2 linked regions of the Homo sapiens genome follow. The protein of the gene in region 2 purifies or fractionates together with the protein of the main gene of each other region. This does not show direct contact. Each region holds a gene or a part of one and is shown on either strand. Other genes may lie near its edges.

What was found. Proteins that work in one complex are often made in the same cells at the same time.
Region 1: the proteins of SH3BP5L (region 2) and PPP1R12A purify together in Homo sapiens (affinity purification with mass spectrometry; 2 studies listed by BioGRID and IntAct, with this or other methods). This does not show direct contact.

What each region holds. Positions count from the first base shown.
Region 1 is NC_000012.12:79,925,098-79,932,514, forward strand, and holds part of PPP1R12A (protein phosphatase 1 regulatory subunit 12A), read right to left. Parts: intron 1-7,417. UniProt on the Homo sapiens protein: Key regulator of protein phosphatase 1C (PPP1C). Mediates binding to myosin. As part of the PPP1C complex, involved in dephosphorylation of PLK1. Capable of inhibiting HIF1AN-dependent suppression of HIF1A activity.
Region 2 is NC_000001.11:248,809,168-248,816,870, reverse strand, and holds the end of SH3BP5L (SH3 domain-binding protein 5-like), read left to right. Parts: coding exon 1-49; intron 50-208; coding exon 209-337; intron 338-1,993; exon of another isoform or gene 1,994-2,142; coding exon of another isoform or gene 2,143-2,160; intron 2,161-2,260; coding exon 2,261-2,422; intron 2,423-3,625; exon of another isoform or gene 3,626-3,672; coding exon of another isoform or gene 3,673-3,708; coding exon 3,709-3,882; intron 3,883-4,500; coding exon 4,501-4,971; 3' UTR 4,972-6,425; downstream 6,426-7,703. UniProt on the Homo sapiens protein: Functions as a guanine nucleotide exchange factor (GEF) for RAB11A.

The DNA of each region.
Region 1 (7,417 bases), on a different chromosome or scaffold from region 2:
ATGTTCTGGAGCTGAAACTCCAACAGAAAAGCTCTAGAAGTGTTCCATGCAAGAATATAAATATTCAAATAAGTTTATAACCATCTAAAACAATTTTGAAGGCTAATAAAATATATATAATTTGGGATGTTTATTACAAGTAAAGGTTGAGTGCATACGTGTACGTGTGTGTGTGTGTGTGTGTAACAGTCCATGAAAATATACTTTCCCACATGGTTATTAATCTTTAAGAGGGTGCCAAGTGACATCTCACAAAATGTATTCTCCTCTGCACTATGCAGTATTCAAGAAAATGACATGAGCTTTGTACAATCTTATGATTTTATTGTTAGAGGTCATGTTAAACTAAGAAAATAGTAATTTCAGCTCAAATGTGAGTTAAATCATCAAGTTAAAGTAAAGCTTTTTATTAAGTGAAGCTCTCTCTGCAGAATATCTCACTTAATATACATAACATTTAAATAGACTACTAAAAAAGTGACAGCTGAGGAATGCTTTCACTTCTTTCCATGGTTTCTACTGAATGTCATTTCAGAAATGCCTATACAACACATGACAATGTGGAATGTCTCCTCCCATGAAAGAGCATTTGAGTTGAGCAGCAAGCACACTTAGGGCAGTAACACAGAACTCAAGCGTGTCTTTTTATGGTTAGCCAGCATAACAATGCAAAGATAAACAACCAAAACACTAATAAGGTCAGAAAATACTGACATAGAGGGAGCCATAGTAAAAATGTTATTTGGAAAAAAAAAGTATCAGTAAAATAACAGAAAATATGCATTATTTCTAATATTACCATGCTAGAGATTTCTTTTCTTTTTCTTTCTTTTCTTTTCTCTTTATTGGTAGAGACACCGTCTCCCTATATTGCCCAGGCTGGTCTTGAACTTCTGGGATCAAGTCTCTTGCCTTGGCTTCTCAAAGTGCTGGGATTACAGGTGTGAGCCACTGCATCCAGCCTAGAGATTACTTTTCTAAATGAACACTCAAGGATTTGTTTAAAGAATTTTTAAACTAAGTTACATAAACTGAAGCGTCTATTGATAATCAGTAATAGATCTCATTTCAAAAATAAATCTAACATCCCAATAATTTTTTTCTTTAAGACAGAATCTCGCTCTGTCGCCCAGGCTGGAGTGAAGAGGCATGATCTCAGTTCACTCCAACCTCTGCCTCTTGGGTTCAGGCGATTCTCGTGCCTCAGCCTCCTGAGTAGCTGGGATTACAGGCATGCGCCACCATGCCTGGCTAATTTTTATTTTGTATTTTTAGTAGAGATGGGGTTTTGCCATGTTGGCCAGGTTGATCTCAAATTCCTGAGCTCAGGTGATCCGCCTGCCTAGGCCTCCCAAAGTGCTAGGACTACAGGCGTGAGCCACCATACCCAGCCACCTAATAAATGTTTTGATTGTAATAATGGCTACCTTTACATTGTAAGTATTATAAAAGTAAGTGGTTGATATAAGCTTTTTTATTAGGACATTTTAAAAGTTTGTCAGTGTGTTACACTTACCCAATTATTTAATATTCTATGAATTCTGCTCTTCAAAATATTAGTTTACATTGTGTCCAATTTTTTTTAATCATTAAATATTTATTGTGTACCTACTAAAACAAAATGCCGATACAAAAGGAGATTTAAAGAAAAAAAGAATCAAAGTCCCTACCTTAAGGGTATATAAGGGACTTCTTCCCCCCCACCCCCAGTATCCATGGTATGAAGTTTCCTACAATTTGTCTCTAAAAAGAATCAAATATGTACATGTACGTATGTATAAAAAATTTACTGTAAATGATTAAAAAAAACTAAAACAGGCTAAGTGCAGTGGCTCACGCCTGTAATCCCAGCACTTTGGGAGGCTGAGGTGGGAGGATCACTTGGGCCCAGAAGTTTGAGACTAGCTTGGGCAACACGGGGAGACTCTGTCAAAGAAAAAAAAAAATTAGCTGGAAGTGGTGGCACATGCCTGTATTCCCAGCTGATCGGGAGGCTGAGGTGGGAGGATCACTTGAGCCCAGGAAGGCTACAGTGAACTATGTTCATGCCACTGCACTCCAGCCATGGTGACAGAGTCTGTCACCCTGTCTCAAAACACACATACACACACCACACCCACACACACACCCAACAACTGAAACGATATAAATTGCTATTAGGGTAAAGAAAAATAAAGGTAGTTAAAAATTAAATTCTATGTCCTGAAAAAAGGAGTGTTTCTTGTTGCTGCTGATATATTCTGCACATAATGGTAAGTCAAAAATAATCTTGGCACTTCCTAAAATTTAGGACAATTTCGAATTCTGAGATTAATTTAGATACAGTACTACTGCACTTCAATTACCATAGAAAGGTCTTAAAAGTATGGGCTAGCTAAAACAAATGTGGATGAAGAAAAAAATTATATGTGTGTTTCACTTGATTTTCAGCTAATTTACAGAGAAACCTCCAATTACTAAACACCACCATAATGATGAAAAGATTTAAGAATATTTTCTTCTTCAGACTTCAAAGAAGATACCTGGCATAGGGTAAAGTTTGAGTTTCGGCATCAAACAGACCTGCATAAGAATTCCAGCTCTGCCATTTATTTTCTTGTTAACTTTGAGCAAGTGAAAAAGCATGTTGTGAAAATTAAACTATTGTTTGGAAAAGCACTGCTCCTCAATAAAACACTGATTAAGTCATGGCTACTACATATCTGACTCCAACTGAGAATAAACTTATAATTGTTGGAGTTCTTCAACCTTTCAAAGAGGTATACCAAAATGCCAATACCTCATCATCTTCTCAACCTTATTGTGGAGCCCCACAAACTTTCAAAAGAAGGGTGGAGTAAAAGATGGCAATTTTTTGCAGGCAGAGGCAATGAAAATAGCAACTTCATATAGTGTCAAGAAGTAACATGTTATGGTAGTAACAAAACAACGTTTTATGCCTCCCCCTATTAAAAGGTTTTTAAATAGTTTTCTTTTAAAAATCATCTAATAAGATTTTTAAAACACTTTTCTTATGTGAACTGTAATTTTTAAATGTGGTAATAACAAATGGATGATGAAAAACACTTCCTCTATTCCATCCAGTGTTTCTACCTGGCTATAGAAAATGCTCAGTCACAGCTTGCAATCATACTGTAGCTGAGGCACATGAAAGATGGTCTTGGTTATGACACCTCAAAGTCAGACCACAAAAGTGTTGCCAGGAAGCACAGAGGCAGCAACTACAGAAAAAGCATTAGAACAGCAGCAGTGTGGGCACTGGTGCCCTACCAGCACACCCCATATATGGCTAGGGTTGCCCACTTATTTGTAGGAAGTGAGGGGCCAGTTTGGGGTTGGGAGGGTTTTATTTGTTTGTTTAGGTAGGTTTTTAAAAATGGATTTAGGATGATTTCAATAAAAACTTTTGAAAGGCATGAGCATAAAGTGTTACAGCTTTTCTAAAAAGAAAACTATGCAGAGAAATATTTTACACTGCACATTCTTTTAGACACAAATTTTAATGCTCTTTAAAAGTTATCCAGTAGGTTCTTCCAAGATCTTAACATTCTCCATCAAAAAAAGGGTAAACAGTTACAAACTATAAACTCTTAATTCAGATTTTACATAGTAATCAAACTATTTGCTAACAAGCAACTCAAAATTAATTGCTTCCAGTCTCTTTTACACTTCACATCTTAAGAAGACTACACAAAAGTATTCCCTTTACTGACGAGAGGATCACATATTTTACAAAGATGCTTAAAATGGCTCCCTTAGAAGTAGATCAAATTTGTATTTTAAAAGCAAAAGGATTTCATATTAAACCTATCTGTAAGTCTGTCTGTTTTGGAAAGTAAAAGAAAAACTATTTTAAAATTCTAATAGCATAGAACATGGAACTAATTCTACTTTGTATTCCTCTAGAAGTGGTACCCAACCTTGGCATCAGGAACTAGTTTTGTGAATGACAATTTTTCCACAGATGTGGGTTGGGGAGTGGGGCCGGATGAAACTGTTCTACCTCACATCATCATCAGGAATTAGATGCTCATAAAGAGCACACAACCTAGATACCTCAGAAGCGCAGTTCACAATAGGGTCCGCACTCCTATGGGAATCTAATGCCGCTGCTGATCTGACAAGAGGTGGATTTCAGGCAGTAATGCTAGCTTGCCAGTGTGTCGCTCACCTCCTGCTGTGTGGCCTTGTTCCTCACAGGTCGTGGATCGACCTGTCCACGGCCCAGCGTTTGTGAACCCCCGCTCTAGAGGATCTAGCTCAGACTCTTACAAAGTGAGTAATTAATTAGTGACTCAACTGGATATAATATTTTTCTACCACTTAACCAATATCTAGACTGCTTTAAAATTTAATAGAAAGGAGGTCGATATTAAGAATTTTTTAGGCCGGCCACAGTGGCTCACACCTGTAATCCTAGCACTTTGGGAGGCCAAGACGGGCGGATCACTTGAGGTCAGGAGTTCGAAATGAGCCTGGCCAACATGGTGAAACCCCATCTCTACCAAAAATACAAAAAAAATTAGCCAGGCATGGTGCCACGCACCCGTAATCCCAGCTACTTGGGAGGCTGTGGCAGGAGAATCACTTGAACCTGGGCGGCGGAGTTTGCAGTAAGCCAAGATTACACCACTGCACTCCAGCCTGGGTGACAGAATGAGACTCCATCTCAAAAAAAAAAAAAGATTTTTTTAAAATCTCAAGATATTAAAATATATTGAAATCTACAACAAAGTTTTTAATTTGTTTCATAATCACACAAATTCCATTATGTGCAAGAACAATACGCTAAGTATCTGATGCGAAGGTTTCAAAAATATATCTCACAACATAAAAATAACTCTAAAACTTCCTATTGATGAGGTAAAAAGATAAAAATTCAATAAACCTTTAGTGAGCATCTACTATGTGCTAGGCTCTGGAAATACAAAAATTGTGGAAGATTAGGTCCTCAGAGGCTACAAGGGAAGACAAACACAAACACTATTCAGTAAAAAGTGTTTTTATTGCAGGAGAGGCAGAATATAAGGTACAGTGAACACCCCAGAAAAGAGAATGTGAATCTTGAACAATGACTAGAATTTTAATTGGCAAACGAGGGAGAGAGGATAAAAGGCATGGCTAAAGGCATGGAAATAAAAAATGTAAAGATCTAGTTGAAACGTAAGCAAGTTAACCAATTTCTATAAAGGATACAACACAATGGAGATGTATCAACCATAAGCTAAATGATAAAATGTACTATATCCAAATTTAGAGAGAGGAATAACACCATCAAAATGATACTGTTCAAAGATTAATATGACAGCAATATGCATGCTAGATTAAATAAGGGAGAGAATAGAGGCAGGAAAAACAATTAAGCTATTACTATACTCTAGGGATAAAAATAAGGCTAGGTGCGGTGGCTCACGCCTGTAATCCCAGCACTTTGGGAGGCCGAGGCAGGTGGATCACCTGAGGTCAGGAGTTCGAGACCAGTCTGATCAACATAGAGAAACCGCATCTCTACTAAAAATACAAAATTAGCTGGGCATGGTGGCACACGTCTGTAATCCCAGCTACTTGGGAAGCTGAGCCAGGAGAATCGCTCGAATCCGGGAGGTGGAGGTTTCAGTGAGCCAAGATAGCGCCATTGCACTCCAGCCTGGGCAACAAGAGCAAAACTCCATCTCAAAAAAATAAAATAAAATAAAATAATAAAGGTATGAACTAGGTTGCCAGTAAAAAGTGGCAAAGAAAAGAACTGATGCCAAGGTAATTGTAAAGAAAAGACTGAGCTAGAAGACAGACTGGATTATGCATAGACAAGGGGAATGAGTAAACAATAACTAAAATGTTTAACTTGATTCTAAAGATTAATACATCATTAACAGAAACAGGAACATCAATGAGAAGAGTAGACTTGATGAAGAAAGATAGACCTGTTTTAGGTTGAATTTAAAGAAATTCCTGACGATGTAAAATTGTCTTACCACCAAATTAATAATACTTTTAAAATAATTAGTTAAAAAGGATGCTGGTAAAGTCTAAAGATAAGTATCTCTAATGTTAACGGATAAACGTAAAATTATAATACTGAATTGCAACTATGAAAATCTATATTTGAACAATAAGAAATCCTTTGAAGAAATCACAAAGGTTAACGTGAATACAGTAGTTGCCATTCTATGGCAAAGGGGGTGAACTTGTATTTACTATATTACTACTTAAAAGACATTATTAAATATAAAATTACAATACATTTAATATTTCATTTCAAATCAATACATAACCCCAAAAAATGGAAATGAGGCTTGGAGCTTTGCAGAAATGAGGGAACTGTAAACTGACTTGGAAGTCACTGGCACAGAGGAAAAAGAAAAGATTTTAAGGCTAAAATCAACAGGCTAAACTCAAAACTGCTGGAGAAAAATCTCAGCCCTGTATTTTATGCACACCAGTATCAGTAAGAATCAGCAATAAGGCATTCTATATATAACTTTATTAATCTCCTTAAATCTTTACAAAATATGCTAAAATAGAGATATAATCACATACTGTAAAACTCTACCAGGTAGCTATAAAATCAGAAGCTGATTATTGCCCCATTGGTAATAATGAAATTCTACTCTAGACCTCGGTTCTAGAAAAACCAGAAATTTGTATCTATGGTTAACTTTGTGCTGTTTTGTAGCTTTGGGGGTCAGGTCCTGGGTAGAGTGGGTGGGGGAGAAAGGCTACTCTGGAGACTAAGATAGGAAATTTGACAAGAAACGCTGCTTTTTCTTCTATACAGAGGACACATTTCTATACAAAAAGAACAGCTGAAGACTGGATATCTTTTATAACTTCTAATGAGGTAGCACATTCAACAAATTAATAAACCTTTAAATATAAGCTCTTTAAAGTAAAAGCAAAATATTCGATTTTCAAAAGCATATTTGTGGGTTGTGATGTTCCTAAAACTTTTCTCTTGACAATGAAATTTAGAACACTTGATCAAAACCAGAAAGTAAATGAATATTCAAAAAACAATCAACAATTAACCCCGTTATACATTTTAGGTATTCTACGATCTTTTGAGAGGTTAAAGTTTTAAAGAACTATTCAAGGACTATTAAATCAGTGATTTTAGTTTTTACAATTAAGTATGGAAAACAAGCTAAGTTCAAGAGATTTCTTAAAGGCTTAAAATTTTCTTGTGTGTGTGTGGTTTTTAATTTTATTTATTGTCTTTCACTAACTGTTGTCCTAAATTTGCCCAAAGTGAACTCCCTGTTTTCATAGTAACAATGGGAAAAAAGTACAAGAGTTGATAAATAAGAAATGAGAGTGAAGAAAACATAACACAAATTTTTAATGCTTGATATTTTAAAGACTTTGGCTTCACCGATTTAAGGCATTTGCAGATATGGAAAAATGTTATGGAAAAGGG
Region 2 (7,703 bases):
CCTGAACCAGGCCAGCGAGGAGATCAACCAGGTGGAACTACAGCTGGATGTGAGTGTCCTTTTCCTTATGTGCTTGGGCTGGTCCTTGGAAGTATCTCCATCTGTCTCTTTCCCAGATTGAGGCAGTGGCGGTGGGAGGGGTGTGTCTGAGAAACAAGAGGGGCTGGGACCCAAACATGTGCCTTTCCTCTGCCTTGTTCCTTTCCAGGAGGCCAGGACCACCTATCGGAGGATCCTACAGGAGTCGGCGAGGAAACTGAATACACAGGGTTCCCACTTGGGGAGCTGCATCGAGAAAGCCCGGCCCTACTATGAGGCTCGGCGGCTGGCTAAGGAGGTATGGCTGGCTGACCACGTTTGAGGAAGGCTACGTGCTGAGCCTGGCCCTGGATTCTTCTGTCTCTATATGGAGTGAGAGACAAAACACCAGACCCTGAGGGCAGAGCCCTGGGCTAGACCTGGCTGGTCGGAACCAGCTCTGTGGGCTCAGGAGGTTCCTTTACCACGTGGGCTCTGGGCTTATGGTCTATAAAATGGTGAGGGTGGCTGTGGGAGAATATTTAGTTCAGCCCTGCTAATGTTTAAGTGCCTTCTGTGTATCAGGAATCAGGCTTTAGGGTATATCAGATATGTCAGTTCTAACATCCTGTTGTTTTCATCTGCGCCCATTTCCTCTTCCCTTTGGTTCATGTCTCTCTTCTGAATCTTTTCTTTGCTTACTCCTCACTCTTTTCCCCATCCCACACCCCTTTTTTCTGTAACAAATTACTTTTAACAAATAATATGTGTTCACCATTGGAAAAACATAATAAAACAAGAAGGAAACAAAAATCACCCAAAATCCTACCATGCACGTTTCATGCATTTTGTTTCCTGGGATTTGTTGTCATCCTGTATGGTGAGGTGACAGATACAGACAACTGCCTTGGAAGAAGAGTTTGTTCCCGAGAGGAGGGGACATCCATGCCATGCAGGGCCACACGGGGAAGCAGCCAGGGTCCTTCAGGAGGCAGAAGTGAAGGAGAAAGCAAAGCGCAGCGCCTTAGTGTGGTTTTCGTGGAAAGGAGTAGGTGAGGCAGGGTAGGCAAGTTTGGATAAGTTTAGGAGTGGATAGTTGGAATAACTTTGCTAGGCCCTGGGCTATAGGGGCGGCCTCTAATTGTCTAGTACCTGGCCCTGGGATGACTTAGGGCAGAGGAAATATCGGCTTGGTCGGGGAGAAGTAGGTAAAGGAGTTAGCTGGGGATCCAGGCTTTGGATTAGGTGGTTGGTTTGCATATGAAAGGCACACTTACAGGGGAGTTTACTGTTTCTAGGAATTAGCCCTGGAAGGGGCAGTTTGTCCTTGGCCAGCAAGGTCCCCCAAGACATGAAAGCATCATAAAGTATAGAAAATAAAAATATGATTAATACAGCACAGATAACCATGTGTGCTGTATTAATCATATTTCGTGTCCTTGTATATCCAGCCAAAATGGGATTACACAGTATGTGCTATTTTGTTCTTTTATTAGCATTATGACATGGTTCCATGTCAATAACTATACATCCAAGCCGTCATTTTAAAGGACTGATTAATATTTTATTTTTTTAAGAAATGGGGTCTTGCTCTGTTGCCCAGACTGGAGTGCAATGGTGTGATCATAGCTCACTGTAACCTCAAACTCCTAGGCTCAAGTAATCCTCCTCCCTCAGCCTCACAAGTAGATGGGCTCACAGGCAGAAGCCACTGCGCCCAGCTTATTTTCTTATATTAGATGTACTATTATTTATTTAACCGATGTCCTATAACTGAAAAGTTAGGTTTGTTTTGTTTTTTGCTTGGTTGGTATGGCTATGATGACTGTCCCTGAGCACTTGTCTGATTACTTCCTTCAGCTTGCCTGCTGAACATGGAATTGATGGTCTCAAGGTCATCTTTTCTGTAAGACTCTGTCTATGTTGCTAACCACCTTACACTAAAATGGTTTGTGTTTTCCTTTGTTTTCCCTAGGGGAAAAGGCTAGCAGCCTTTGGGAGTGCTGGATTTCACACATCTACCCTCCACTGGCAAAATTTTTATTTCTTCTAGTCCATATCCTTATGAAATATTCTTTATAGAATGTTGCTTCCTTGGCATTTATCCTCAGCACAGTTTGGGAAATGAAGCCGACATTGCTAGTAGGCCTTCCTCCTTCTCTTATCCTCACGTCTATTATGGGTCTCCATGGGCAGCTGGGGTCCCTCAGGGTTCCCCATCCTGATATCCCTCTCCCCCCAGGCTCAGCAGGAGACACAGAAGGCAGCGCTGCGGTACGAGCGGGCCGTAAGCATGCACAACGCTGCTCGAGAAATGGTGTTTGTGGCTGAGCAGGGCGTCATGGCTGACAAGAACCGACTGGACCCCACGTGGCAGGAGATGCTGAACCATGCTACCTGCAAGGTGAGCCGGGCGGTGCCAGCAGGTCCCCTTCGCTGGTTCTCGTCCATCCTTTGCTATGTCTTTATCACCTCACCTCCTCATTCTTCCCTCTATTCTAGCCTTCTTTCAACTTTGATTCTGTTTCAGGCAAAACCTGTTCCTAGTTTTCTGTTCTGTTTGGCCTCCATTGCTTCCCATATTCCATTTCCCTCTGACTTAGAATGTCATCCCGGGCTCTTCTTGAACGTTTGCCTCCAGGTGTGGGACTAACCCAAACAATTCATCCCTGGTGGATACTGAGGATTCAACATTCACATTTTATTATGTTTAGCTGTGTGACTCCTCGCTTCTGTTTTCAGAGTCTGCTCCCTTTCCTGCTTTTGAGCTCTGACAGTACACCTCGAGTTTTGAAGTATAATTTATGTATCATTTCCAAGCTCCTGAAAGGGGACTGGGGAGCGGAAGGATCTCTGCCGTTGGCCCTGTCTGCCACCTTCAGCTTGCACAGGGCAGGTGTCAGCAACTCGAGGGGGTGTTTGTGGCTTGTGATTCTTCATCTGCCCCTCACACAGAACAGGCACCTCACTTCTACTCTAGAGCTCATGCAAATGAGAGCACACAGCACGGGGGGAGGGGTTAGGGGATGGTGTATAGTGTAGAGCTACACCTGAACAGGGAGCAGGTGAGGGCTCCAGCCGCTTTGTCTACCAGGACAAGTGGGCCAACTGTACAACACCCTGAGCAGAAGCACGCCAGAGCCCCATCCAACCTCGGCCCACTTGTCCTGGACGGTGCCCACATAGGGTGTGGAAACCTGGAGAACCCAGCGCACAGCTGTGGCTCCCCACACAGGCTCTTCTCACTCCCAGATCCCTAACCATTGGCGCTGAGGGCTCCCTGAAGAGAATGGCTGCTGCAGATGTGTGATGTGCTGACAGACATTCCCCTGATGCTCTCAAGTGGTTGAGTGGGCACCAGCATCCCTTTCCTGGCAGCAGCAAAGCTGAGTAGCCAGTGGTGCAGGTGACACTAGGCAAGAACATGGGGAAGACGTGGCTCAGAGGCATGTGCCTGTGATGTGGTCCTCGACGGTCAGGCAGCAGATCCAAGAGAGACAGAAATAAGCTGTCTTGAGGCTCATAGACCCCGTGTTCCCCTGCGTGTCTCGGGCTCTGTACACAGTTGGGGGTTTGCAGAGGATGTTCCTGTTTGGGTTCCCCCCAGGGCGTTGTTCAGATTGGCAGCCTGGGGCAGATGCCAGAGACTGAAGCATGGGTCCTGGCTCAGTGATGTGTCCTCTGGGCCAGGTGAATGAGGCGGAGGAAGAGCGGCTTCGAGGTGAGCGGGAGCACCAGCGAGTGACTCGGCTGTGCCAACAGGCTGAGGCTCGGGTCCAAGCCCTGCAGAAGACCCTCCGGAGGGCCATCGGCAAGAGCCGCCCCTACTTTGAGCTCAAGGCCCAGTTCAGCCAGATCCTGGAGGTAGCTGAGTGGGTGAGGGGGAGGAGGAATGGGTAGGTGGGGGTGCAGGCTGGAGGGGATGCTGGTCGGCCTCTCTGGGCCATCTTGGTGAGGTGGCCAGGGTGAGGCCTCCGGCTAGCGGTGGGGAAGGGTGGTGGCACACATGTTCCAAATGACCTTGCAGGAGTGAGAGGCAGGGATGGGGGCTGGTGATGGGGGCTGGTGACGGCGAGAACGTAGTTGGAAGAAGGGAGGTAAACAAGAGGAAAAGAACTGGTGGAAATCTGGGATGGGGAAGAAGAACCAGCCATTGGGTGAAAGGGAACAGTGGGGAGAGGATGAGGAAGCAGGAGCTGGTGGAGAGGAAGGCCTGAGAGGAAGGCTCTGGAAGGTGGGGCTCAGGTCAGGAGCAGGATTGCTGGGGAGGAACAACGCAGAGCAAGTGGAGCAGGGAAGGGTGTTGTGGGTCTGTGGTGGGTGCTGAGAGTGGAGCAGGGAAGGCTGTTGTGGGTCTGTGGTGGATGCTGAGCCAGCTGTCCAGGTATTCTGGGAGAGCAGGCCCTCAGACCTCAGTGCAGAGTGCTGAGGAAGGTGGAGACGTGCCCCATGGGTCGCCTTGCTCTGCTCTGCCCTCTGCAGGAGCACAAGGCCAAGGTGACAGAACTGGAGCAGCAGGTAGCTCAGGCCAAGACGCGCTACTCCGTGGCCCTTCGTAACCTGGAGCAGATCAGCGAGCAGATTCACGCACGGCGCCGCGGGGGTCTGCCTCCCCACCCCCTGGGCCCTCGGCGCTCCTCCCCCGTGGGGGCCGAGGCAGGACCCGAGGACATGGAGGACGGAGACAGCGGGATTGAGGGGGCCGAGGGTGCGGGGCTGGAGGAGGGCAGCAGCCTGGGGCCCGGCCCCGCCCCCGACACCGATACCCTGAGTCTGCTGAGCCTGCGCACGGTGGCTTCAGACCTGCAGAAGTGCGACTCCGTGGAGCACTTGCGAGGCCTCTCGGACCACGTCAGTCTGGACGGCCAAGAGCTGGGAACGCGGAGTGGAGGGCGCCGGGGCAGCGACGGCGGAGCCCGTGGGGGTCGGCACCAGCGCAGCGTCAGCCTGTAGCCGAGGGGCCAGGGTTCCTGGCTTGAATCTGCCACCACGGGCCGGTTGGGGCCCACAGTCTTCTCACGCCCTCTCCTCTGGGGCCTCGTCTTCCCGAAGGTCCCCTTCTCCAGTGCTTCCCTGGGAGAGGCCAGCTGTGTTCGAGTCCTCTGTGCCTGCCCTGGCGTTCTCACAGCCTCCCCCTTCCCCTCAGCAGGCGGCTCTCTTTGCCTTACCCATTCAGAAGGCTCGCCCTCGGCGCTCTGTCTGCCTCTGCCTGCCAGCTCATCACGATCTGCAGGGCATTGACCCTTTGCTTTCCCTTTCTGCTCCCTCTCTTTCCATCTGTTTGGCTTTTTCCCTCAGGGAACTTGGTCTAGAAGGCACTGGGAAGCTCATCAGAGAAAATGGGTGCTGGGCCTGAGTACTCCCGTCGGAGGGGATGGACAGTCACCCCTCCCGTTGGTTTCCAGCCCCGCCCCCCTTCCCAAGGCAACTCTGGAGGGTACCCTAGGTATGCTGCTGAGCCCTGCCCCCCGTCCTGCTCCAGCCTGCCCGTGTGTAACCTGTAAGATGTACTGTGTGCCTCCGGAAGACACCACCTTTCCCTTCAGCATTCCCTTTCATGACCTGAGGCACTCTGCGATGTGTGCCCCAAAGCAGAACTTACAGGGCCTGCAGGAAGCTGGTGTCAGGGAGAGAAACCCAACCCCACTGTCAACATAGGGAGCATCACCAACTCCAGACTGGCTCCTGTGGGTATGGTGTTTCCGCTGGGCTGGGTCCTCAACATTGCCAAGGTGCTAGTGGGTCCCTAAGAGGGCCCATGTTGGGGGTGAAGTCATGAGGTCCTGAAGGCTTAGGCCCCTGTCATTCCCACCCTCACTCTTGCTGCACAGTTGTGTTTACTTTTTCTGGGTAGAGGATGCTGAACTGACTCAGCACCCTCCTGCAGGACGGGGTTAGGGAATTTGGTGCTCAATTGCTCTCCCTTGCTCTTCCCCAAACTGAAAATACCTACTGCAGGATCCCTCGGGGCACACTGAAGCTTGGCTGCCAACCCTCTTACTTCCTTTGTTACAGGGAGGGGTTGGCTTGGGGTGAAAAGTTCTGCCCTCCGCAGGGAGCAGCTCCAGCTGCCTGGCAGTGCTCCCAGTTTGTAGGGAAGCCACACCAGATCTGGGTGCCTTGGGAGAACCAGTCCTTCCTTTTGACCCACCCCAGGAAGATGGAGTGCTCTTTTCTAGGCCCATGTTCTGCCAGCAACCGGGATGCGTGGGCAACTGGACTCTGCACGGGGGTCTACAGGTTGAGGGAGGTTGGTCACAATGAGAACCTCGGGGTTTGAGGTGGCCATGGGCAGACAGCCGAAAGGGAGGGAGGGTGTGGGTGTGCGTGTGTGCATGTGCTGGTGTGTAAGGGGGAAAGGGTCTTTCCTGGTTTTATTTAAATAAAGTAGTTTATGTAACAGTTAACATCTACTGTCCTTGCTGGAGGAAGAGAAAAGGGGCAAAGATGAGGCAAGGGTTGGGCAAGGGAAGAGCAGGGTTAGGCGGCAGGCTTTTTAGATGGTGTGGTCAGGGAAGGGAGGTGAAGGACCAGATTGAGTGAGCTGCGCTATGCATGCTCTTGCGGGGGTGGAAGGCCCCATGGCCAGGGTGGTCATGTACAGGGCAAGTGTAGAGAAGCAGGGGAGGAGTTGGTGCCTCATGGGGCCATGCTGTGTGAGGTGATGGGTGCCAGGAGAGGGTTTGGTAGAAAGGGGCCTGCGGGGTGGAGTGGGCTCTGTCTGAGCTAAGAGATGAGAGTGCCAGAGGGTTGGGATCTTAGATGTGTCTGGATGTGAGCATGAATGTAGAGAAGGGACACAAGTAGTGATGCCAGATTTATCAATACAGTGAACCCACTGAAATTTCAGATAGGCAGTATTTTTGTCTGCTGCAGTGTTTAGGATGTACTTACATTATGAATTATCCGTTGTTTCTCTGAAATTAAAACCTAGATAAAAGGTGACTTCCAAGTCAGGGCTTGACTGGCTGGGGGATGGGAGGGGTTTGAGGGCACTTGAACTCACAGGTGGGAGATTGGATAGGGATGTGAACTCCAGGAGCTTTGAAGAAGAGCAAAAGGCTTTGTTTAGCCTGAGCTGCACTTGGAGTGTACCAGTATTTGGAGTTTTGTTGAGAAGAGGTCAGCCAAGGGAAGAAGAAGGTGCTGGCAGGGAGGAAGACCAGAAACCTTGGGGTCAAGGGGCAGGGTGAAGGCCAAGAATTGGAGGCACGCAATCAGAGCAGTGACCCTGGTGGCTGTGGACGCCATCTGAGGGGCCATCTGGGGCCGCTATGTGCTGAGCACTCACTGTGCCTTTGGATGGGTGCTGTCCAGGAGTTTGAGATTGCCTTCCCTGACTTGGCAGATGGGTGTCATAATATTTTATTACTAGAAAAGCTGCTATGAAAATGCATAGCATATGTTTTTGGGTGAGTGGGCTTTTTAAATTTTTTAAATTGTATGTATAGGAGGTGAACAACATGGTATTTTGATGCACATAATGAAATAGGTATCAAATTGGCCTATCATTTTGCAGTTACCTCCCCCCTTTTTTGTTGTGAAACCGCCTAAAATCTACTCTCAGCAAATTTTCAGTCTATAATACAGTATTATAGTCCTAATGAAGGGCTTTCTGAGATGACACACAGTGCTGGACTTCCCTACCCAGTCACTGGCAGGCAGGACCTGTGAGGCTCCTGGTA